7 linked regions of the Homo sapiens genome follow. The protein of the gene in region 5 purifies or fractionates together with the protein of the main gene of each other region. This does not show direct contact. Each region holds a gene or a part of one and is shown on either strand. Other genes may lie near its edges. The genes, in order: NT5E, TMEM67, TKFC, HACL1, ALDH6A1, MST1R and OAS1.

Region 1 (3,500 bases), on a different chromosome or scaffold from region 5:
CTCTTTCACAGGCACAGAAAGACAACACACAGTTTTAATGGTAATAACAAGTCCTATGGCTGAGCAAGACCAGGTATGAAGAACAAGCCCGTCTACTTGTCACCAGGCGGAATGGCCATGGTAGCTCTCTGGGGGCCTTACTGAGCCAAGGTCTCCTATGTCGGACTACTACTTCCATGGGCTCACAGCCTGCACCCAGGGAAGTCATTTCTGTCAGTGCTTGGCATGCATTGCCCAGTGCCCAGGATACAACTGCACTCGATAAATGTTTGCCGTGTAAATGACAACAATCATGCTCATGCCAAGACCAGACTCATGATGTCTCCTCAGCATCATGCAGTCAATGCCAGAGAAGTAGTTAAGGAGAAGCTGGTATATAAATGTTAAGAGAAGTCTGGAGGGAAACAACCCAGGCTGTTGGCAGTGCTTATCCACTCTGTTAAAGAGGCTAGGACAAAGGAGAGCTTTTGCTTTTTATTTATTTATTTATTTAATTAATTAATTTATTTATTTATTGAGACTGAGTCTTGCTCTGTCGCCCAGGCTGGAGTGCAGTGGCATGATCTCAGCTCACTGCAACCTCCGTCCCTTGGGTTCAAGCGATTCTCCTGCTTCAGCCTCCCAAGTAGCTGGGATTAGAGGTGTCCACTACCACACCCAGCTAATTTTTGTATCTTTAGTAGAGACGGGGTTTCACCATGTTGGCTAGACTGGTCTCGAACTCCTGACCTTAGGTGATCCACCTGCCACAGCCTCCCAAAGTGCTGGGATTTACAGGTGTGAGCCACTATGCCTGGCCTTTTTTTTTTTTTTTTTTCGGCTTTTTGTCTCCTAAATGAGAATATATTCATTTTATTTCTTATAACTAAACATATATTTTGTAAAATAAAAGTAAGAATGGATGTGATTCTCCCCAGCTTCAAAAGGCTGTCTCTGTCTTTCCAAAATTGCCAACTTGGGAATCAGCTGCAGACATAGACGTGGAGGCCAGGTTCTCTTTGGCATGAGGTCTGGTGTTGAGCAGGCTCTAGGGCCAAGCCCTCAGAATCAGGCAGAGGGCATGGCCTGCCCTGGAGAAGCCTGTGCAGGAGTGACTCTGCAGGCCACCTTGCATGGGAGGCCCAGTCCCGACACCAGGGCTACAACCGAGAGACCATTTTGCTAAGGCCACCTGGCCTGACAGTATGGGAGTTTTAGGAGGGGGAAATAAGAGTTTGACATGGACTGGTAACAGTATATTTTTACTTCTGGGAGCATAAAATTAGTTCTAATTATAGTTGAGAGATCCCTGGGAACACAGCAGCAGGTGAAAAGCAGCTTTATTTCCTCACTAGAGCTAACCAGATTCCTGGAGCTGATCCTAAGGAAGAAGAGCCAGAGTAACTAGTGTAAATCTGTGCTACTGTTGCAGATTAACAACAACCTGAGACACACGGATGAAATGTTCTGGAACCACGTATCCATGTGCATTTTAAATGGAGGTGGTATCCGGTCGCCCATTGATGAACGCAACAATGGTATGCTCCCAGGCCCAGCTCCTCAGTGTGTCATGTTCTCTCTCTGATCTCCTTTTCTGTTATGGTTCTTGCCCTGAACACACCCATGTGCAGCCTCAGTTCATCTCTGCTGCCAGCCATGTACCAGAATGTCAGTCCTTTAAATTAGGGTTAGCCATTATTAAAGTCTAAAACCTAGCCTGAAGGACACACACAAGCTTGTGTGTTCTTATATGTATTCACACACAGAAGCTGCAGGTAAGGTTAGTGGAACTCAAACTTGGTCTGAATTTCTGACTTACAAAGCTATACTAGTTGTTTCTGATTTATGCAAAATAACAACAGTCACCACCTTGGCATCTGAAAAGAGACAAAATCACCAATCTTCTGTCCTGAAAAAGACATACCACTGGATTAAAATGTTACCTTAGTATATTTACAGATATCCAAGATTATATCATATGGCAAAACAAATCAACTACACAAATACTCAAGACACTCTTGTAGCCCTCCCTGATTTACTGTGAAAACCAATCAGTATCAGTATAAGGCCCCAAACGCATCCCATTGTCAGACAACAGGGACAGGTTGCAGGGGCACATTGTTTGTCTGGAGGAACGGAACAATGCAAAACAAACTACTGGAGATCCAGCCCCAAGCTAGCAGATCTAAGACTGAGCATGGTGAACTTCTGAGGCACAGCCATTTGTGAGCTCCCGCCATCTTGCCCAGTGGTGGAGTGCAGGGCCAGAGGCCTCCTAAACTCATTCCCTTCCTCAGTGTCAGGAACCACTTAGACATAGCTAATGATGCTCTATAAGCTTCCCATGTCCCCCTCATTTCTTCCCCCAGCGCTGAGGGAAACTGGTCATGGTGTAAGCATTTTCTCAAGCTATTTTCCTTCTTGCCTCATCTGTGACTACCCTCAGGCACAATTACCTGGGAGAACCTGGCTGCTGTATTGCCCTTTGGAGGCACATTTGACCTAGTCCAGTTAAAAGGTTCCACCCTGAAGAAGGCCTTTGAGCATAGCGTGCACCGCTACGGCCAGTCCACTGGAGAGTTCCTGCAGGTGGGCGGTAAGTCACCCATCCTGTAGGGCTGGCCCATCCAAAGTGACATGGCATTTCCTGCTGGTTGGCTCAGCTTCCCCTTCACCAAAATTCCTGTGGTCAAACTGGTTTGGATTTTTCCCGACCCAACACCAATACCTTACCCTTTAATGGCTGTGGACTCTCAGAGCCACTAAGATTAGGTTGGGGTCAAAGCCCCAAAGCCCCAAAGCCCTGGCAATAAGCAGTATTTGCCAAGTCTGATTTGGACATCAGATGGGCCCTCTAAGCAGGTCACCTGCTTTGAGGTCTAGTTTCTAATAAAATCTTATTTAAGCATTCAATTATTTTTTTTTTAAATCCTCTCCTCTGTTCTACTCATCGTTGCCTGGAACCATGCCAAGATTTAAAGGAATGCTGTCCAATCTGTATTAACCAGGATGATTCCTGGAAGGAGCAGCCTACTGCACAGACATACCTGAACACCTGGTTCTAGTCCCACTGTGACCTGGGGCAAGTTCTCAACCCCTCTGGGCACAGGGAGAAAACCTTTCCTGTTTATCTCATGGACTGCAGTGAAAGTTGAATGGAAATAAATGCTTCCTAAATTGCCAAGGGCTTCTGAAACACTTTTGTTAATAATTCCACAGTCCAGTGAATTAATCCTTTAAAAGCAATCTTATTTTACCTGGAAATCATAATCTGGCCTCATTTTTTTAACCTTAGGTTGTGGTCCCGCTTGACAGATAGAATTGCTTTCCTGAGTTTTCCTCTGCAGAACACATTGCTGTTGAGACTGAAGGGCTACAGAAGGCAGTGGGGCCCTGTCCTAATGCCTATGGGGCAACCCAAACATCCTCCATTTTCCCAGAAGGGAGTTGAGGGAAAAGCAGTTTTCTGATGCTCTAGCAAAGCACTGCATAGCTCTATGCCTTGTGGAAGTCACCAAATC
Region 2 (3,500 bases), on a different chromosome or scaffold from region 5:
GTGCAACCTCTGTGGAAAGCAAATTTATGGTGTTTATCAAAATTAAAAATACAGATTATCTTTGCCTGGAAAGCTCTCATCTAGAAATTTCTCATTTGGATACACTTAACTGTATGCCTGAAGAAGTGTTGAATGTTTTTTTCTTGCAACATTATTCCTAAGACAAAAGATTATAAACAAAATAAGATTCTATCAAGATGAGATCAATCAATTAAATTATGATATAGTCATACAATGGTATAGAATGCAATTGTGGAAAAATAAAGAGGCAGTTCTACACATAGTGCTATGGAAAGAAATCTAAGATATATTGAGTAAAAAAGCAAGATTTGGAATAATTTATTCATTCATCTACAAATGTTTATTGAGTACCTGCTATTTATCAGCACTATTTTATGTACTTGGTATTCCACTATTTAGCTTTTTAAAGACCATTATATATGCATATGTGCTTGTATATGCACAGGTTATTTCTGAAAAGACTCATAAGAAACTGTTAACAATGCTGCCTCCTGAGTGAAGAACTGAGTGCCTGGGAATAGTGGGAAAGAGACTTAATTTTCATTTTAAATCTTTTTTTGCTTGGTGCAGTGTTTCACGCCTGTAATCGCAGCACTTTGGGAAGCCGAGGTGGGTGGATCACCTGAGGTTAGAAGTTCAAAACCACCCTGGCCAACATGGTGAAACCCTGTCTCTACTAAAAATAGAAAAATTAGCTGGGCATGGTGGCAGGTGCCTGTAGTCCCAGCTACTTGGGACACTGAGGCAGGAGAATCACTTGAATCTGGGAAGTGGAGGTTACAGTGAGTGAGATCACGCCACTGTGCTCCAGCCTGGATGACAAGAGCGAAACTCTCTCAAAAAATAAAATAAAATAAATCCTTTTGTGCCTTTTATTTTTATATTTCATATATTACCCAAAGATTAATTTTTTAATTATCTTTACCTTTTTTTTTTTTTACTTTTTAACAATTTTTTTTTTTGTGGTGATGGGGGTCTTACTATATATCTCAAGCTGGTCTTGAACTCCTGACCTCAAGCAGTCCTCCTGCCTTGACCTCTCAATGTGTTGGGATTACAGGTGTGAGCCACCATGCCTGGTCTTATTTTTTCAGAGACGTGGTCTTGTTATGTTACCCAGGCTGGATTCAAACTCCTGGGCTTAAGCAATCTACTGCACCCAGCTTCTTAGTAGTTTCATTGGCACTGTTGCCTCCATTGAAAATATTAACTTGATTCTCACGGTATTTGGGGGGTGTATTCTTAGGGATGGGACTAATGAAAGTTTTATGAGTTGGATGGCAATATGAAATTTATTACACTTCATGATGTACTAATTTTGGTGTGTGTGTCTCTGTGTGTGCACATTCAGAATTTTTTTTCCCTGTTTTATTATAAGGATCTACACTATATAGCCACAGGAAACATAAGTGGTATGTTTGCATAAATGTTTCATACACAAATATTGTTCTAGCATACTTTTTTCAGTTAACGGTATGCTCTGATGCTCTGTTAGATTTACCTGATTCTTTTTGTTTGTTTGTTTTTTGAAACAGGGTCTCACTCTTGCCCAGGCTGGAGTGTAGTGGTGTGATCTCAGCTCACTGCAACCTCCACCTACCAGGTTCAAGTGATTCTCATGCCTCAGACACTTGAGTAGCTGGGATTACAGGCACGTGCCACCACACCCAGCTAATTTTGTATTTTTTTTTTTTTAGTAGAGACAAGGTTTTGCCATATTGGCCAGGCTGGTCTTGAACTCCTGGCCTCATGTGATCCACCCACCTTAGCCTCCCAAAGGGCTGGGATTACAGGCATAAGCCTCCTCACCTGGCCTTACCTGATTCTTTTTAATATATTCCATAGTATTTTGTAGCATGGATATACCATCATTCTGCTATTTTAAATATTCGTGTTGTTTCTAACAAATAATGCCTCAGTGAATATCCTTATATACATGTTCAAGTGTTTCTGTAAGTTAGGTATCTAAAAACAAAATTGTGGTGTTATAAGGATGTGAATTTGAAACTTTAATAGATACTACTAAAAGCCTTCTAAGTTGCAGAAACTTATCAGTAATCTATGAAAATACTTGCTTCCCCATCCTAGTGTGACAGAAATGTATAGATAAGAGGTAAGAAAATTTTTGAGGAAAAAAATACTGACTTAATTGTTACGATGACTTGGAAAATGATTTTCTATATTTTACTATGTGAGAATAGGGAAGGCATCACTTCTCTTTTTTTTTGGAGGCATGGACGGGTACGAAGGGATCACTTCTCTACACTTTATTATGGAGATACTTGTTATGCCTTTAATGCAAATAAAGTGTTTTGAGAATTAATAGAATAATAGTTACAATTGGGTTTTGTTAAATATTTTCTGAATATGTAGAAGCTTATATGTTTACTATGAGTTACATCTTTATTTTGTTTCTAAACTGTTCAGTGGAAAGAGACATTAATGGAACATTGTTGTCTCAAGCAACTTGTGAGCTCTGTGATGGAAATGAAAACTCTTTTATGGTAGTAAATGCTTTAGGAGACAGGTAAGCAGTGTGATGGGGGCTAACTTCATTAATATCATCTTATATTAGTGTATAATTTGTACTTTTAAGAGTGTTTTCCTATCATATCACTTAGTTTTCACAATAACCCAAGGAAGGATAGAAGTAGACATTAACAGATACAGAAGCTGAGGCCCAGAGCGTGAGACACACTAGGGTTCAAATTTTGGTCCAGTCTGTTAGTTGTCTGACCTTGGATAGCTCACTACTTCACAATCCCTTGTCTTTAGAATGGTAATGTTACCACCCACTTCATAGGCTGTAATGGCTCAGAAATAATAAGTAATAAAGTAAATAGATACAGTTCTTAGTATAGTGCTACATAGTAACCACTCTGTACAGGGTAGCTATTTTTGTTTGTTGTTACATAATTTGTATATAATCTGTAATATAATTATGTGCTAAGTACTGTACTAAAGCCCTTATGTATTATAATGTTACATAGAAAAACATAAATGTATGCTAATAATAGCCCAGGTACCCTGATTTATAGTCCCATTTTCTGTTGCTTCCTGTTCCCCCTTTGTGCATGTATTTGTGAAACACACACACACACACACACACACCCCTGCCTGCCTATATACTTCCCTCTAATTTAAGCACATTATACCAATTTCAGCATCTTTAATTTATTAGAGGCCTACATCATGACTTCCCTCCGGGCACAGTTTTTTCTTTAGTTTCCAAGTTTAATATGGAAAATAGTTGAGCAGCTTTTCTGAGGGCTACTTAGTGTTGGATCATCTTTTCTCTAAGGCTGACCTGAGTTATGGCATCCAAATACCAATTTTTTTTGCCCAATATTTCCCCAAGCCTAGTGTGTTTTATGTCATGCCCCAGCCCGACTCCTACCTGCTCTATTTTGCAAGTGATGAATACCCATATATTCACTCATCACTGTCCTCATTGGACCAGTACCCTCCCTCCCTCTGTC
Region 3 (3,500 bases), on a different chromosome or scaffold from region 5:
TGATTTCCTCCTGGCAGGCATCCCTCAATAACCCCACAAATGACCACGTTCCCTGGAGGTGTCCCCTACGTCGGGGAAGATGAGTAATTACAGGTCTCATTTACTCAGTTCGTGCCAGGTGCTGGGCGCTGTGTTGAGTGTCTTACATATGTTTAATCTCACTTAATCCTCAAAACAACGGTATAAAGCAGGTACCATTATTATTACCCCCAATTTGCAGACAAGAAAACAAACAGAGGCTCAAGGTATCCGGCAATTAGGTGGCAGAGAGACGATTTAACTCAGGCTTATCTGACGCACAGTCCGTGTTCTCTGCCATCACAAGACCCTCCCTCAGCCCTTTCCAAAGGGCTGTAGGATCCCCTTCCCAGTGCATGGCTCACCCAGGGAGCGGACGGTAGCGTCGGCTATGATGCCCAGTTCCAGGAATGACAGGCCACCCAGGTTGTTGACCATCATCACAACTGAGGAGCCTGCGGGTAGACATGACACCCCAGGTGAGACCCTCTGGGCGTCTCCTCCCCAGAGGTTTAGGAGGGGTTGGGAGACGCGGGCGAGAGGCTACCCACCGGGCTGCACAGGCACATGGGACGCGTTGGTGGTGTTTGTCATGTGGTCGAGCATGAGTTTCACAATCTCATCGGCGGTTGCCATCTGTCAGAGGGAGCCAGGAATGAGCTGCATCTGGGGGGCCTTGGCCTTAGGGCGGCCTGTGCCAGAGGGACCACCTACCTTTATCCGGCGCACACCAGCTTCCCCGTGGATCCCTGCGGATAGATGTGGTCACTGCTGACCCACTCAAGGCCTGGGGATTTGCTCATCGTTTTTATCAAGGACTCACACAGTGCTGGACTCACACAGTAAGTGGGCGGGAGTGGGGGATGGAAATGGACAGAATAATGAAAAACACGATCTCTGTTCTCTGGGAGCTTGTGGCCTGGTGGTGGAGATAGCTTTAACTAGAGATAGTTAAGGAGGAAGCACAGGCGAGGAAAGAAAGCTTTGCAGCCAGGTGATCTTTGAACAGCCGTTGAAAGAAGGGTGTATTCTGGCAGGGACAGGAGGACCTGGGAATGGCAGGCAAAGGCTAGGAGGTGGGCAGTGCACAGAGCTCCACATGGCCAAAGCTGTGGGTATAGACAGCAAAGCAGGTAGAAATCAGGCAGGTTGGCCCAGGCTGGGCCTCAAATGACCAGGTAAAAATACTAAGACCACCTGGGGAGAGGACCAGGTTGATGGCTCTAAGGGTATGCAAGGTGGGCAAAGTCCAGGGCCAAGGAGCAGGCAGGGCTGGGATGGATGGCCACAAGCTTACCCAGGCCCAGCTCCACCTCGTCGGCTGAGAGCTCGAAGGTGGGTTTGGAACCAGGGACGCTGCAGGAGGATAAGCTCACCCCCAGGGTACCTATGAGAAACAAGGCATGAAGGGATGACTGTTCCACTCTTAGCACTGGGCATCAGGAAGGGTGGCAGCAGCATCTCAGAGGCCCTGCCCACAGGTACCCTCTTCTCTGAGAAAGGCTGCCAGACTCTCCACCTCAGCCATGGTACCCAAGGCCACCAGTCCCCAGGAGCTCCCCCAGGGATACACTCCCTAGACCCCTGGGGAATAACCTGGGGAGCACCGCTAGGCAGCCAACAGGAACCTGCTCCTCGCCCCAGGGCTGTCCAACCTTCCCCACTCTCTTCCCCAGCTCCCAGGCCAGCACTCACCCATGGCCTTGGCGACCACGTTCACCTGCTTTGCGATCTCCTCCAGCCCCACACCAGCCTCAGCCAGAGCACCTGCCACCTGCAGCCACAAAGAGGTAAAAGCCCCAGGGGGGAGGGTATCACTGTACCATGTGGGGTAGAAGACAGGCAGGGGATGAATTTCTTGTTGGGAAGGGGGAACCTCAGGATTTTCACACTCAACCTGGCCCATCACATTTAGGGCAGAAGAGCAAACTCCCCTCATTCACAGTGTACCTGCCAGGAATCTTCAAGAATTCCAGTCTGTTGGAGTCAGAAGAGACTTTACAAATGGGGAAATGGACCCAGAGAGGGGCGGTGACTTGTCCAATGTCACACAGCCAGTGGGTGGCCAGTTTCCCAACTCTAGAGTTCCAGAGTTCTCTCTCCCATAGCCTTGCTATTTTGGGTCACTTTACCCATCTATCCATCCATCCATCCACCCAATTTTTACCAAGCATCTAGTATATGCTGAAAAGGAAAAAAGGCGACTAAGTCACAGTCTCCACCTTCAAGAACTCACAGCCTGGGGAGAGGCTAGGGAAGCAGATACCCATAAATTGAAAATTTATGTGAGGTGGTAATTACAGTGATGGAGTCCACACTAGGACTGGCTGCCAACCAGCTCAGGGTAGTGGGGAGATGGAGATCAGGGAGAGCCTTCCAGGTGGGGAGACATCAGAGCTGGGCCTCTGTAGAATGGTAGGAGTTAGCCAGGCCAAAAGGAGGCTGGACAAGGAAAGAATTTTCCAGGCCACAGATACTGCATAAGCAAAGCCAGAGATGATCCATAGCCTGGCAGGTACAGGAGCTGGCGTGAAGAGACCATAAGAGGAAGGCAGGGGCCGGGCGCGGTGGCTCACGCCTGTAATCCCAGCACTTTGGGAGGCCGAGGCGGGTGGATCATGAGGTCAGGAGATCGAGACCATCCTGGCTAACAAGGTGAAACCCCGTCTCTACTAAAAATACAAAAAATTAGCCGGGCGCGGTGGCGGGCGCCTGTAGTCCCAGCTACTCGGGAGGCTGAGGCAGGAGAATGGCGTGAACCCGGGAAGCGGAGCTTGCAGTGAGCCGAGATTGCGCCACTGCAGTCCGCAGTCCGGCCTGGGCGACAGAGCGAGACTCCGTCTCAAAAAAAAAAAAAAAAAAAAAAAAAAAAAAAAAAAAAAAGAGGAAGGCAGGGATGGCTGGGCGCGGTGGCTCACGCTCGTCATCCCAGCACTTTGGGAGGCCGAGGCGGGCAGATCACTTGAGGTCAGGAGTTCGAGGCCAGCCTGGCCAACATGGTGAAACCACATCTCTACTAAAAATACAAAAATTAGCCGGGCGTGGTGGCAGGCGCCTTGTAATCCCAGCTACTCGGGAGGCTGAGGAAGGAGAATCACTTAAACCTGGGCAGCGGAGACTGCAGTGAGCCAAGATCGCGCCACTGCATTCCAGCCTGGGCAACAGAGTGAGACTCTGCCTCAAAAAATAAATAAATAAATAAAAAATAAATAAAAGAAAATAAAAAAAAGAGGAAGGCAGGGATGATGGGAGATGAAGGTGGGGAGTCAGGGAGCTATGGTGAGGGCTTGTATTGATTGTAGGCACCCAAGAAGGCTTTCAGTGGATGAATAACCTAGTCAGATACACATTTTAAAAAGACACCTCTGGCAGTAGTGTGGAGAATGGATGAGCAAGGCCAGAAGGCAGGAAGCAGGCAGGGGAGCCCAGTGAGGAGGTGGCTGCAGCCATCAGGCATGAGTAGATGACCCCTGAACCAAGGC
Region 4 (3,500 bases), on a different chromosome or scaffold from region 5:
GGTGGGCAGATCACCTGAGGTCAGGAGTTAGAGACCAGTCTGGCCAGCATGGTAAAACCCCATCTCTACTAAAAATACAAAAAATAGCCAGATGTGGTGGTGCATGCCTATAGTCCCAGCTATTTGGGAGGCTGAAGGCAGGAGAATCGCTTGAACCTGGGAGGTGTAGTTTGCAGTGAGCCAAGATCGCACCACTGCACTCTAGCCTGGGCGACAGAGCAAGACTCCATCGCAAAAAAAAAAAAAAAAAAAAAGTCACTTAACCAAGCCTCAGTCTCCTCTCTTCTAAAGCAGGAATAGTATCCTTTAGGCAGAAATTCCTTGAAAAAAAAAAAGTAGGAATAGTAATAGTTCCTACCTTAGAAAGATGATTATGAAAAACAAATGAGGTAATCCAAGCAGTTTTTTTTTTTCAAGATGGGGTCTTGCTTTGTCACCCAGACTGGAGTGGAATGGCGCAACTGCGGCTCACCGCAGCGTCAACCACCCAAGTTCAACGGATCCTGCCTCCTTAGCCTTCTGAGTAGCTGGGATCACAGGCATGCACCACCATGCCCAGCTAATTTTTTGTATTTTTTTGTAGAGACAGGGCTTTGCCATATTGGCCACACTGGTCTCAAATTTCTAAGCTCAAGCAATCCACCCGCCTTGGCCTCTCTAAGTGCTAGAATTACAGGTGTGAGCCACCATGCTTGGCCCCAGCTAAATTCTGAGGTGATGCTCAGTGAACATGAGTCATTTGGATCATGTGTGTAGTTATGAGAATTCATGGAGAAACTCATGAATTGTAGATCCTCACTATAGAAGGATGGGGGTTTTATTTTTCCAGCTATATTTAAACTGTAGTAAAACCATTCTATTCTTAGCCAGGGCTCTTATTAGGGCTTTTGTGAATCATGTTTTGGGGTTGGCAAAGCTTTGGTAGATAAAACGTTCAAGATTTGGGAAGGTATAGTTGTCCCTCTATATCAGTGGGGGATTGGTTCCAGGACCTTCCTCAAATACCAAAATCCAAGGATGCTCAAGTAAGTCCCTGATATAAAATTGTGCAGTATTTGCAAATAACCTATGCATACCCCCCATATATTTTTAATGATGTCTAGATTACTTTAAAATACTGAATACAATATGAATGCTATATAAATAATTGTTGTGCTGTATTGCTTAGGGAATAATGACAAGAACAAAGTCTGTGCATGTTGAGTACAGATCCAATTTTTTTTCCCAAATATTTTTGACCCGCAATTGGTTAAATCCACGGATGCAGAACTCAGATAATGAGGTCTGACTGTATGTGTCTGTTAGAGTGTCTTTATTGACAACCAAGTGATATACACAAAAAAGATGACTTATGGGGAAGTTAGCCTTTTAGTGGATAATGACTCCTTTTGAGCATGGAGAGCAAATAATTACCACAGTCCTGTTATTTAACAGTATGCAGTTTAGTTTTGTTTTTACCACTTGCCCTTGGAAATTATGTTAGAAAATAAAACCTACATTCTTTTCAGTCAATAACATTTAATCAACCTTTTCTTTTTTGTCTTTGCTATACTGTTTAGCACACTGTTAAATACTCCTTTTCTGTACTGACTACACCATGTAATGTGTTTCTGATTATGTGTGTGGTAGTTTGAGTGCAGATTGTGTGTGCTAGTTACTTGTGTATCTTCCACAGCATCTAGCAAGAGCTGGGTGTCTGTGGGGAGCTCAGTAAATAGAAAGGTACGTTTCAAACACTGTTCCTAGGAACCAACTAGAAGTGGTACTTTAGAGAGTATTAAATAGGGAAGGTGTTCTTCATATACCATCTAGACTTATGAAAACCCAGATTCAGAAAAGCTCAGTGATTTGTCTGAGGTTCATAGCTAATAGCTAAAGGACTATCAACTTTTTTTTTTTTTTTCTGAGATGGAGTCTTGCTCTGTTACCCAGGCTGGAGTGCAGTGGTGTGATCTCTGCTCACTGCAACCTCCGCCTCCCGGGTTCAAGCGATTCTTCTGCCTCAGCCTCCCGAGTAGCTGGGACTACAGGCACATGCCACCATGCACAGCTAATTTTTGTATTTTTAGTAGAGACGGGGTTTCACCATATTGGCCAGGCTTGTCTTGAACTCCTGACCTTGTGATCCGCCCACCTCAGCCTCCCAAAGTGCTGGGATTACAGGCATGAGCCATCATGCCCAGCCAGGACTAACAACTCTTAATCTTGCATTCTTTCTGCCTTTCCATGATGTTTCTGTTAATTATTTGATATTCTTTCTTAGGATAATAAATGCTTGATTTTTAGTCTTCCTCTAATAATACAAAAAGCTTATAGGAAACTATTCATTTTTAAGTTAAAGTTTCAACCCAAAGAAAAGAAATTACTTTAAAATGAAGAATGATTTCCTTCATATTTTACTCTCACTTTAGGTACAACTTGCCAATCATACTGTTGGTAGTGAATAACAATGGAATTTACCAAGGTTTTGATACAGATACTTGGAAAGAAATGTTAAAATTTCAAGATGCTACTGCAGTGTAAGTAACCAAGACCAATGTCTGTTTACTTTCTCTTTCCCGTTTTAATCTCTTTTTAAAAAGTCTTCTATATTGGCAGTAATGTGCCTACATGGTATGAGTATTGTCCGTTTCGATTGTCAGCCCTTCTAAAGAGAAGGAATCCTGTCTTAGTTCCTCTTTGCACAAATATCCATGATTAGGTGCTTCAGTAAATAATCAGGGAGCCACTGAAGACTCAGATAAATGAGTGTGATGTCTGAGCCTTGTTAATGAAAAGGCTTATTGCAAAATGCTCCCTGGACTGGGAGCAATAGTAGGACTACTGATTCCTGTTACACCATTTGGAAATGTGGATGTTTACGTATTATTTGTGTTCCAGAGGTCTACCTTCCTTTCACCACTTAGCTAAATCTTGATCATCTGATGGCAGAGCCAGATTAAGACAGTATTGTAGCTGGCCGTAGAATGTGAGACAGATATGAATTTGTGAGCCAGCCTTGGGGTGGAACAGGGTATGGGTGTGTCTATTTATGCCTCACTAACTTTATTTGTTGTTTTCTTATTATTTGTTGTTTTGCAGTAATCTTTTTTTTTCATGTTTTTCTTCTGGATTCATAATAGTTGATAATGTAGCCTGTGCTGTCTAGTATAGTAGCCACTAGGCATGCTGCAACTGTTGCAAATTAGATTTAAATTACTTCAAATTAAATGAAATTAAAAATTTAGTTCCTCAGTTTAGTCACATTTCAAGTGCTCACAGCAACAGGTAGATAGTGGCTACTGTCTTGGATGGCACAGGTTTAAAACATTTCTATCATCACAGAAAGTTCTACTGGACATTGCTATATAGACAATTATAAATATAGGAAAAACTCAGTGTACTGGCATCTCAGCTTAAGTGTTGAAGATAAAAGTATGCCTTTGAGTTCAGCTGAAATTTTTTTAATGAAGTATTTCAGAGAATGACTTTTTTTCTACAAGGTTTAAGATTTAAATTTC
Region 5 (3,500 bases):
CAGATCTGCTTTACTTTTCTTGTTCAGTGCTGTATTCATAGTGCCTAAAATAATGTCTGCTACAGACCGGGCAGAGTGGCTCACACCTGTAATCCCAGTGCTTTGGGAGGCTGAGGTGGGTGGATCACAAGGTCAGGAGTTCAAGACCAGCCTGGCCAACATGGTGAAACCCTGTCTCTACTAAAAAACAAAAAATTATCCAGGCATGGTGGCAGGCACCTGTAGTCCCAGCTATTCGGGAGGCTGAGGCAGGAGAAGTGCTTGAACCCAGGAGGCGGAGGTTGCAGTGAGCTAAGACCATGCCACAGCACTCCAGCCTGGGCAACAGAGCGAGACTGTGTCTCAAAAAAAAAAAAAATAATAATAATAATAGTAATAATAATGTCTGCTACAAAGAACGTGCTCAACAACATTTTTTGTAAATGAATAACTATTACAGAAAAAATACGTGCAATGGGAACACACTGGGGTCACACTACCCAGCACTGAGGGAGGGGTGGTGGTAGTTGGAGGAGATTTTCTGGAGGAGCTCATTTTTTAAAGTGAGACATGACAGATGATTAGGAGTTAGTCAGATGAAAGGGGAGAGATGGGGAAGAGGGTCACACACTCAGGAAATGGCATATACAAAGGCTTAGACTTCCCCATGCTCTTTCCTCAAAACTTTGTTGCTTTGAATTATTCAGGAAGAAGCAGCTTTGGCAAAATTTTGTTAACTTTTAAATCTTTTTTAGGGAACCTTCTGAGAAGCACTGATTATGACCTCACAGATGCTGCTGGCAGTCCCTTCCTTGCAGAATCCTTGCTCCTGAATATCTTTAAGAAAATTTCTTAAAGGAAAAGACAAAAAATTTAACTCAAAAGTTACCTGTTTGCCATAGAAATTGGTGTCTCCCCTGAAGGAGGATCGAGAGCCGGTGAATGAGAACATTGGCAAAGGCACTGGAATGGGGACATTCACTCCCACCTAAAACAGAACAAATCCGTGTCATATCCTAAGGACAAAGGAACTCTCCATTTAGAAACACAAAGGCATCAGAGACCAGTTTTAAATACCCACCTTCTACCCTATCCTCTACCCCATGAACTTTCATTCCTGAGGAAGAAATGGGGCAATGTGGGAGGTCATGGGGGCAATCTTAAACCAATGACTCACCATTATTTACTGTTTCCTCTTAGGAAATAGTAAATGGATATAAGAATCTCTTAAAAATTCTGTTCACGAACCTGTCCAACATCCACCAAGTGGGCATATTTCCGAGCAGTGGCTCCATTGGTGGTGAAGATGGCAGTTCCATTTCCATATGGGTTGTTATTTACAATCTGGATGGCTTCATCCAATGTTTCTGTCTCCAGAACCACAAGAACTGGACCAAAAATCTCCTCTTTGTAACAGGTCATATTTGGCTGCCAGGAGTGATGCATCCAGAAAAGAAGTCAGCTTTTTGGATTCTGAGTATTTTATGCTTATTTGGTACTTTCACTTACTACACATCATTTACGTGGACAACTTTCATATTACTAATCTCTTTTCATTTCAAATCACCTATTTAAAAAAAAAGTCCTCTCTCAAGTGTATTCCGTCTTCCAAGTTACCAATCATATAAACAACTTGGAATTCCTATCAACAATAACCACACTTCCTTTAAGGGACTGTATCTTTAGTTCATGACCCATCATCAGCTGCCTTTTTAATACCTGAACGACTAGTTTCATCCAATTGTTATCAAAAAGTTACATGAAAATTTATTTTTTATAAATCCAATCTATAGTAAATATACCAGGATAATTTTTCTCTTTACAGAAACCCCATGCTGTTTTCTGTAACATAAATAATCCATTCTTATTCACTCCTTTGCCTCCCAAATATGTCTGTATGTTTATATTTTGATATCAGGTCGCAGACACTCAAAACATCCTTCACCATGCAATTAATGTTTGTTGCTGATAAACGGATTTTTCTGTATGGTTCTGTGGCAAGAGATTTCATAATTTCTACTGCACTTACATTCAACACTTGATGATTCACTATTATAGTAAGGATATATGAATTTCAAAAAATGCCTCATAACCTCAATTTTTAAGTCATGTTAGCTGAGAGACTTTCAAAGTTTTGATAAATAAAAATTGACAAGTCAATTATTTTTGTCACTTTCAATAAATATTGGGTGGTTGATATATTGATTGAGACACTGCAGTAGCCATAAGCTAGGCAGCAAGAGGGAGAGGGGAGAGAAAACATTAACAAACCAGTATAAGATAAGATAGCGTTTGGCAAACTATAGCCTGTGGGCCAAATGTGGCTTCCTGCCTGTTTTTGTACAGCCCCAAGTTAAAAATGGTTTTTGCATTTTTAAATGGTTGAAAAAAAATTAATCATATATAAAATGATATGAAATTCAAATATCAGTGTCCATAAATAACATTTTTTTTGGAACACAGCCACACAATGTTTATAGCTGATCTCACACTACAATGTCAGAGTTTAGTTGCAACAGACACTATATCCCTGCAAAGCTGGAAATATCTATCCCTTTATGGAAAGTCTGCAGACTGCTGGTATAGTGGAAAGAGTTTGGTTGGGAGTTAGAAGGAGAGGCTCATTCAGACTCCAGATAAAATAATTGATCAATCCTGGCAAGAGATAAGGTCTTAGTCATTAAGTATTTTCATTAATAAATTAGAGGGATGAGATTCTATAGCCTTTAAGGTGCCTTCAGCTCTCATATTTGTGAAGTGAAAGTTGTTCACCTTGACATTCGAGATGATGGTTGGTCCAACAAAGTTGCCATTTTCATAGCCTTTCACTTTAATTTTTCGTCCATCAAGAAGGATGGAAGCTCCCTCCTTTGTTCCACTATCAATCAGATTACAGACTCGCTCTTTGGCCTGGGGAGTGATCAGAGGGCCAAGATCAGCTCCAGGCTGATCTCCTGTAAAACAACACAGAAGAATTTAAGGTCCTCATTAACATAAATTATGACTGCTGCCAGGGCTCATGCCTGTAATCCCAAAGCTTTAGGAGGCCAAGGCAGGAGGACTGCTTGAGCCCAGGAGTTCCAGACCAGCCTGGGCAACAAAGTGAGACTTCATATTTACAAAAAATAAAAAAATTAGCCAGGTGGTGGCCCGCACCTGTGGTCCAAGCTGCTCAGGAGGCTGAGGCAGGAGGATCACTTGAGCCCAACAGTTTGAGGCTGCCATGAGCTAGGATGGTGCCACTGCACTCCAGCTTGGGTAACAGACAGCCTGTGCTTTAAAAAAAAAGACTGCTAACAAGATGACTCCAAATGACAAGTACAGTATAAAGAGAGGAAATGGCAAGAATAGACATGATTGTTCCCACTGGCCAAGGCCAGTGACAGAACCCAAGAGCTTAATGCCACAGATGCAAAATCTAAGGGGGCAAGTCAGGTGATTGATTACCTGCATTGACTCTCAGGTTTTTGGCATGCTCCACCAGCTCTGGCAGCCACTTCTTGGCTTCTCCCACAAGGACT
Region 6 (3,500 bases), on a different chromosome or scaffold from region 5:
GTCATCTACCCTGGGGACTCCCTGGGCTCAGATCATTCAGAGCTGAATGGGTGAGGCCCAGTGTTCTTGGGTGCCAAAGCCATGTGGACTGTAGGGCAGGTGGGGCCTCACCACATCAGACTTGGTGGTAAATCTATAGGTCTGCAGGCTCTCCAGCGCCATCCACTTCACAGGTAGGCGAGCGTGGCGATGCTGTTGAACACTATAGTACTCCCTGTCCAGGATGTCGCGGGCCAAACCAAAGTCAGCCACCTTGACTGTGAATGACTCGTCCAGCCTTAGGGGTAGGGAGAGGATCACACTTAGGACTGGCCCTTACCAGGCCCTGAACCCACCTGTTCTAGGCCCTTACAGAATTTTTTTTTTTTTTGAGACGGAGTCTCGCTCTGTCACCCAGGCTGGAGTGCAGTGGCGCGATCTCCGCTCACTGCAAGCTCTGCCTCCTGGGGTCACGCCATTCTCCCGCCTCAGCCTCCTGAGTAGCTGGGACTACAGGGGCCCGCCACCACGCCTGGCTAATCTTTTTGTATTTTTAGTAGAGACGGGGTTTCACCGTGTTAGCCAGGATGGTCTCGATCTCCTGACCTCATGATCCGCCTTCCTCAGCCTCCCAAAGTGCTGGGATTACAGACGTGAGCCACCGCGCCTGGCCAAATTTCAAAGCCACAGTGTCCAGTCCAAGTCTGCACTGGGCAGACAAAAAAAGTAAGGTGCAGAGAGGGGAGGACAAGGCTGGAGTGGGCCCTTCCCTGAGGCGGCCTTGAGCACCGCACACCCTCATGCCCTGTCCTTTTGCTTCACCCCAGCTACTCTGGACTCTCACATGCAGTTCCGCGCAGCCAGGTCCCTGTGCACAAACTTCTGCTCTGCCAGGTACTCCATGCCGCGGGCTACCTGCAGGCCAAAGCTGATGAGGTCCTTCACGGTGGGGTTCTGGGGGCACAGGTGGGTTGGTGGGCAAGGGCACAGCAGCTCCTTCTCCAGCTGCTGCCCAGCCCCCAACCCAGAGCCAGATGAACACTGACCCGCTGAGGTGAGCGGATGAACTGGAGCAGGTCACCGTGGCACATATAGGGCAGCAGCACATGGGGCAGGCCCTCAGGTGGCAACATGATACCAATGAGAGCCAGCACATTCGGGTGGTTCAGGCCACGCATGAGCAGCCCCTCTCGCAGGAAGGCCTCCACCTGCTGCATCTCTGTGATGCCTGCAGAGCAGCGCAAGTCAGGCACAGGGCAGGGCGTCCCTTTATAAGGCTCAGATGGGGAAATGGGAAATGAAGGTCTCCTGCTCAGGGTCACTCAGTAAGGTGGGAACACAGAGAAAAAGAATCCTCCCAGCCTGAGGCCCCTCCCTCTGCCTTCCCATCTTCTGCCCCACTTACGACTTAGTGACTTGATGGCACATTGGATTCGATTCTGGGCCTGGTCTATGTATTCTCCGTGGTAGACAACTCCAAAGTGGCCTGGTGTGAGGTGCATAATGAGTCGATGAGAGGGGATCCAGGGCCCAAGGCTCACACCACACATTCTCATTGGCAACCAGACCTCAGAGCACTAAACTGGCCAATCTGACATTTTATTTATTTTTAATTTTTATTTATTTTTTTTGAGACCGAGTCTCACTCTTGCCCAGGCTGAAGTGCAGTGGTGCAATCTCAACTCATTGCAACCTCTGCCTCCCAGGTTCAAGTGATTCTCCTGCCTCAGCCTCCTGAGTAGCTGGGATTACAGGCAACTGCCACTACACACAGCTAATTTTTTTGTATTTTTAGTAGAGACTGGGTTTCACCATGTTGGCCAGGCTGGTCTCAAACTCCTGATCTTGTGATTCACCCACCTAGGCCTCCCAAAGTGCTGGGATTACAGGTGTGAGCCACCACACCCGGCCCAATCTGACATTTTAAAAAAGCAGCAGGGCTGCGTGCAGTGGCTCACACCTGTAATGCCAGCACTTTGAGAGGCCAAGGCGGGTGGATCACGAGGTCAGGAGTTTGAGACCAGCCTGGCTAATATGGTGAAACCCCATCTCTAGTCCCAGCTGCTTGGGAGCCTGAGGCAGGAGGATAGCTTGAACCCGGGAGGCAGAGGTTGCAGTGAGCCAAGATCGTGTCACTGCACTCCAGCCTGAGAGACAGGGCGAGACTCCATCCCCCTCAAAGAAAAGCAGCAGAAGCCAAGCGCAGTGCGCCTGTAATCCCAGTTACTCAGGAGGCTGAGGCAAGAGAATCGCATAAGCCCAGGAGTTCAAGGCCAGCCTGGGTAACATAGTGAGATGCTGTCTTTTTTTTAAATTAAAAAAAAAAAAAAAAGGCTCATGCCTTTAATCCTAATACTTTGGGATGCTGGGGCGGGAGGATCAGCTGAGGTCAGGGGTTCAAGACCAGTCTGGCCAACATGATGAAACCCCGTCTCTACTAAAACTACAAAAATTAGACAGGTGTGGTGGCAGTGGCAGGCCCCTGTAATCCCAGCTACTCAGGAGGCTGAGGCAGGAGAAATGCTTGAATCCAGGAGGCAGAGGTTGCAGTGAGCCGAGATTGCACTACTGCACTCCAGCCTGGGCAATAGAGTGAGACTCTGTCTCAAAAAAATAAAAATAAATAAATAAGTAAATAAAGCAGGGTCGGGTGCGATGGCTCACGCCTGTAATCCCAGCACTTCGGGAGGCCGAGGCGGGCGGATCACCTGAGGTCGGGAGTTTGAGACCAGCCTGGCCAACATGATGAAACTCCATTTCTACTAAAAATACAAAAATTAGACGGGCTTGGTGGTGCACGTCTGTAATCCCAGCTACTTAGGAGGCTGAGGCAGGAGAATCACTTGAATCCGGGAGGCAGAGGTTGCAGTGAGCTGAGATCATGCCACTGCACTCCAGCCTGGGTGACAGAGTGAGGTTCTGTCTCAAAAATAAATAAATAAATAAATAAATAAATAAATAAATAAATAGGCTGGATACAGTGGCTCACGCCTGTAATCCCAGCACTTTGGGAGATCAAGGCAGGCAGATCACCTGAGGTTAGGAGTTTGAGACCAGCCTGGCCAACATGGTGAAACCCCATCTCTACTAAAAATACAAAAATTAGCCAGGTGTGGTGGCGGGCGCCTGTAATCCCAGCTACTAGGGAGGGTGAGGCAGGAGAATTGCTTGAACCTGGGAGGGGGAGGTTGCAGTGAGCCAAGATTGCACCACTGCACTCCAGCCTGGGTGATAGAGCAAGACTCCATCTTGAAAAAATAAAATAGGCCGGGCGCGGTGGCTCACACCTGTAATCCCAGCACTTTGGGAGGCTGAGGCGGGTGGATCATGAGGTCAGGAGATCGAGACCATCCTGGCTAACACGGTGAAACCCCATCTCTACTAAAAATACAAAAAATTAGCCGGGCACGGTGGCAGGCGCCTGTAGTCCCAGCTACTTGGGAGGCTGAGGCAGGAGAATGGCATGAACCTGGGAGGCGGAGCTTGCAGTGAGTCGAGATCGCGCCACTGCACTCCAGCCT
Region 7 (3,442 bases), on a different chromosome or scaffold from region 5:
GGTTCTGAGAGGTAAGGAGCTTGTCCAACCCTTAACAGAAAATGAGTAAAATAGCTGCAGTTTGAACTGAAATAAGAACAGCAGCAACAACAATGATAGTAATTGCTCCCAGGTATTGAAAGCTTGTTGTAAGACTAACACATGCTAATATAATAGTAAAAATTATTAGCAATATTACTGATATGTATGTTATGTTCTAGTCGCTGTGCTGAGCATTTCATATAACTGGGCTTTTTCTATCCTCACAGCATAGCCTTTGAGATAGGTATGTGGAACTATTCCCATTTTACAGATAAGAATCCTGAGGCTTAGAGAGTTCAAGTGACCTACCCAAGGGCACATCACTGATAAAGGGCAGAGGTGGGATTCAAACCCACATCTGTCAGGTGCAAGTGCAAGGCTCCTTCTCCTCATGCTCACTGCCTGCTGGGGAATAGGGCACTGGGGACATACCCCAGGGAGCCCTTCCTCATGTTCTGAGTCCCAGTTCATCCCATGCTGCTATTTTGCTCTCCCAGGAGCATCTGGACTCCCTAGACAGAGCCCCAGCTTCTCACCTGTCCCTCTCTAAATGCTGCTCTGCAGGCCTGTGATCCTGGACCCGGCGGACCCTACAGGAAACTTGGGTGGTGGAGACCCAAAGGGTTGGAGGCAGCTGGCACAAGAGGCTGAGGCCTGGCTGAATTACCCATGCTTTAAGAATTGGGATGGGTCCCCAGTGAGCTCCTGGATTCTGCTGGTGAGACCTCCTGCTTCCTCCCTGCCATTCATCCCTGCCCCTCTCCATGAAGCTTGAGACATATAGCTGGAGACCATTCTTTCCAAAGAACTTACCTCTTGCCAAAGGCCATTTATATTCATATAGTGACAGGCTGTGCTCCATATTTTACAGTCATTTTGGTCACAATCGAGGGTTTCTGGAATTTTCACATCCCTTGTCCAGAATTCATTCCCCTAAGAGTAATAATAAATAATCTCTAACACCATTTATTGACTGTCTGCTTCGGGCTCAGGTTCTGTCCTAAGCCCTTTAATATGCACTCTCTCATTAAATAGTCACAACAATCCCATGAGGCATTTTTAAAAATTTTTTATTATTTTAGATTCAGAGGGCACATGTGCCATTTGTTACACAGCTATATTGTGTAATGGTGGGGTTTGGGCCTCTATTGATCCTGTCGCCCAAATAGTGAACAGAGTACCCAAAAAGAATTTTTTCAACCTTTGCCTTTCTCCCTTCCTCCTCCCTGTTGGAGTCCCTAGTGTCTATTGTTCCCATCTTTAGCAGATGTTAAGTATTTGATTTTCTGTTTCTGGGTTAATTCACTTCGGATAATGGCCTCCAGCTGCAACCATGATTTCATTCTTTCTTATGGCTGCATAATACTCCATGGTGTAGATATACCACACTTTCTTTATCCAGTTCACACTGATGGGCACTTAAGTTGATTCCATGACTTTGCTATTGTGAATCGTACTGCGATAAACATACGAGTGCCGGTGTCTTTTGATAGAATGATTTCTTTACCTTTGGGTAGATACCGAGTAGTGGGATTGCTGGGTTGAATGGACATTCTACTTTTAGTTATTTGAAAAGTCCCATGAGGCATGTTTTCTATCATTCCCATCTTACAGATGAGACAAAGGCTCAGAGAGGTGAGGTCACTTGCTCAAGGACATCAGCTAACAAGTGGTGGAAATGGAATTCAAGCTCAGTGGACTCTAAAGCCAGTGCTCATGTCACTGTGCTAAACAGCCTGCCTTGTCACATCCCCACCTCTCATCTGACCAATGGGAGACTCTGAGCAGCTGAGTGACTTGGGTTGTCACACAGCTAAACAGGGGCAAAGGACCCAGTCTTGGATCTTTCCACCTCCAAGCAGGAATCTGTCTGATTCCAGGGGATTGATGATGTTGCAGATGGCTAGGAAGCAGACTCCAGGATGGAATTTAGTATGCAGGATGTTCTGGGGGAGAGCCACTGGAACCAGCACTCAGGGAAAGGGGGGAAGAAAGGATAGGAAGGAAGCATGAAAGAGAATAGGGAGAAGTGAACAGGGATGCAGAGCGAATGCCAGTTTCAGCCAACTCCAAGGACAGCCCTGGAGCTGGAATGGCCTTTAGAGCTGCCCCATGGTGACAGAGGTGGCCAGGCTTCTATACCCCTACGTGGATCACTCACTGTGCTTGGGCACCTTGGGAAAGGGCATGGCTTTGAGCAAAAGGCTCTCTGCAGCTGAGGCAACCCCTAAAAGGGCTGACGGCTGAAGTCTGTCTGCTGACCACTGTCCCAGCAGCTGGGGCTTGTTAGTCCTTCCTCAAAGGGGGATCCAGATGGCATGTCACAGTGTCTACCGTAAATGCTCACTGAATCCAGCTGCAATGCAGGAAGACTCCCTGATGTGATCATGTGTCTCACCCTTTCAGGCTGAAAGCAACAGTGCAGACGATGAGACCGACGATCCCAGGAGGTATCAGAAATATGGTTACATTGGAACACATGAGTACCCTCATTTCTCTCATAGACCCAGCACACTCCAGGCAGCATCCACCCCACAGGCAGAAGAGGACTGGACCTGCACCATCCTCTGAATGCCAGTGCATCTTGGGGGAAAGGGCTCCAGTGTTATCTGGACCAGTTCCTTCATTTTCAGGTGGGACTCTTGATCCAGAGAGGACAAAGCTCCTCAGTGAGCTGGTGTATAATCCAGGACAGAACCCAGGTCTCCTGACTCCTGGCCTTCTATGCCCTCTATCCTATCATAGATAACATTCTCCACAGCCTCACTTCATTCCACCTATTCTCTGAAAATATTCCCTGAGAGAGAACAGAGAGATTTAGATAAGAGAATGAAATTCCAGCCTTGACTTTCTTCTGTGCACCTGATGGGAGGGTAATGTCTAATGTATTATCAATAACAATAAAAATAAAGCAAATACCATTTATTGGGTGTTTATTAACTTCAAGGCACAGAGCCAAGAAGTACAGATGCATATCTAGGGGTATTGTGTGTGTATATACATTGATTCAACAAGAAATATTTATTGAGCACTTACTATGTGCCAAGCATAGCTCTGGGCACTGGGAATATAGCAATGCACAAAAGCAGACAGAAATCCCTGTCCTCATGACCCTGCAGAGCCAAGACTTCCAGAATTTTTTAAATAAAAAAATCCCTGTCCTCATGGAGTTGACATTTGTGCAAAACATCTTAATGTTAGATGGTTTTCCTATTACTAATAATTCTGAAATAAGCATCCTTGATTTATCCTTTCTCCATATCTCTGAGAAAAATTATAGAACCTCCCTGTGTGACACAGCAGCCACTAGCCACATGTATCAAATGCTTAAAATGTAGCTAGTCTAAATCTACATGTGCTGTGAGTGCAAGGTATATACTTGGTTTCAAAGACTTAGTACAAATGAAAAGAATGCCAAGTT

The links.
Region 1: the proteins of ALDH6A1 (region 5) and NT5E fractionate together in Homo sapiens (co-fractionation; one large-scale study listed by BioGRID). This does not show direct contact.
Region 2: the proteins of ALDH6A1 (region 5) and TMEM67 fractionate together in Homo sapiens (co-fractionation; one large-scale study listed by BioGRID). This does not show direct contact.
Region 3: the proteins of ALDH6A1 (region 5) and TKFC fractionate together in Homo sapiens (co-fractionation; one large-scale study listed by BioGRID). This does not show direct contact.
Region 4: the proteins of ALDH6A1 (region 5) and HACL1 fractionate together in Homo sapiens (co-fractionation; one large-scale study listed by BioGRID). This does not show direct contact.
Region 6: the proteins of ALDH6A1 (region 5) and MST1R fractionate together in Homo sapiens (co-fractionation; one large-scale study listed by BioGRID). This does not show direct contact.
Region 7: the proteins of ALDH6A1 (region 5) and OAS1 purify together in Homo sapiens (co-immunoprecipitation; one large-scale study listed by IntAct). This does not show direct contact.

Annotation. Positions count from the first base shown.
Region 1 is NC_000006.12:85,488,083-85,491,582, forward strand, and holds part of NT5E (5'-nucleotidase isoform 1 preproprotein), read left to right. Parts: intron 1-1,411; coding exon 1,412-1,517; intron 1,518-2,425; coding exon 2,426-2,575; intron 2,576-3,500. UniProt on the Homo sapiens protein: Catalyzes the hydrolysis of nucleotide monophosphates, releasing inorganic phosphate and the corresponding nucleoside, with AMP being the preferred substrate. Shows a preference for ribonucleotide monophosphates over their equivalent deoxyribose forms.
Region 2 is NC_000008.11:93,761,394-93,764,893, forward strand, and holds part of TMEM67 (meckelin isoform 1 precursor), read left to right. Parts: intron 1-2,448; coding exon 2,449-2,548; intron 2,549-3,500. UniProt on the Homo sapiens protein: Required for ciliary structure and function. Part of the tectonic-like complex which is required for tissue-specific ciliogenesis and may regulate ciliary membrane composition.
Region 3 is NC_000011.10:61,339,728-61,343,227, reverse strand, and holds part of TKFC (triokinase/FMN cyclase), read right to left. Parts: intron 1,793-3,500; coding exon 1,714-1,792; intron 1,406-1,713; coding exon 1,316-1,405; intron 768-1,315; coding exon 733-767; intron 655-732; coding exon 570-654; intron 474-569; coding exon 384-473; intron 1-383.
Region 4 is NC_000003.12:15,563,570-15,567,069, reverse strand, and holds part of HACL1 (2-hydroxyacyl-CoA lyase 1), read left to right. Parts: intron 1-2,411; coding exon 2,412-2,519; intron 2,520-3,500. UniProt on the Homo sapiens protein: Peroxisomal 2-OH acyl-CoA lyase involved in the cleavage (C1 removal) reaction in the fatty acid alpha-oxydation in a thiamine pyrophosphate (TPP)-dependent manner.
Region 5 is NC_000014.9:74,063,954-74,067,453, forward strand, and holds part of ALDH6A1 (methylmalonate-semialdehyde/malonate-semialdehyde dehydrogenase [acylating], mitochondrial isoform 1 precursor), read right to left. Parts: coding exon 3,427-3,500; intron 2,934-3,426; coding exon 2,752-2,933; intron 2,140-2,751; exon of another isoform or gene 1,408-2,139; coding exon 1,228-1,407; exon of another isoform or gene 968-1,227; coding exon 869-967; exon of another isoform or gene 836-868; coding exon of another isoform or gene 735-835; intron 1-734. UniProt on the Homo sapiens protein: Malonate and methylmalonate semialdehyde dehydrogenase involved in the catabolism of valine, thymine, and compounds catabolized by way of beta-alanine, including uracil and cytidine.
Region 6 is NC_000003.12:49,890,374-49,893,873, forward strand, and holds part of MST1R (macrophage-stimulating protein receptor isoform 1 preproprotein), read right to left. Parts: intron 1,466-3,500; coding exon 1,385-1,465; intron 1,208-1,384; coding exon 1,026-1,207; intron 934-1,025; coding exon 824-933; intron 278-823; coding exon 112-277; intron 1-111. UniProt on the Homo sapiens protein: Receptor tyrosine kinase that transduces signals from the extracellular matrix into the cytoplasm by binding to MST1 ligand. Regulates many physiological processes including cell survival, migration and differentiation.
Region 7 is NC_000012.12:112,916,962-112,920,403, forward strand, and holds the end of OAS1 (2'-5'-oligoadenylate synthase 1), read left to right. Parts: intron 1-585; coding exon 586-739; coding exon of another isoform or gene 740-796; exon of another isoform or gene 797-1,635; coding exon of another isoform or gene 1,636-1,752; exon of another isoform or gene 1,753-2,427; coding exon 2,428-2,592; coding exon of another isoform or gene 2,593-2,732; 3' UTR 2,733-2,942; downstream 2,943-3,442.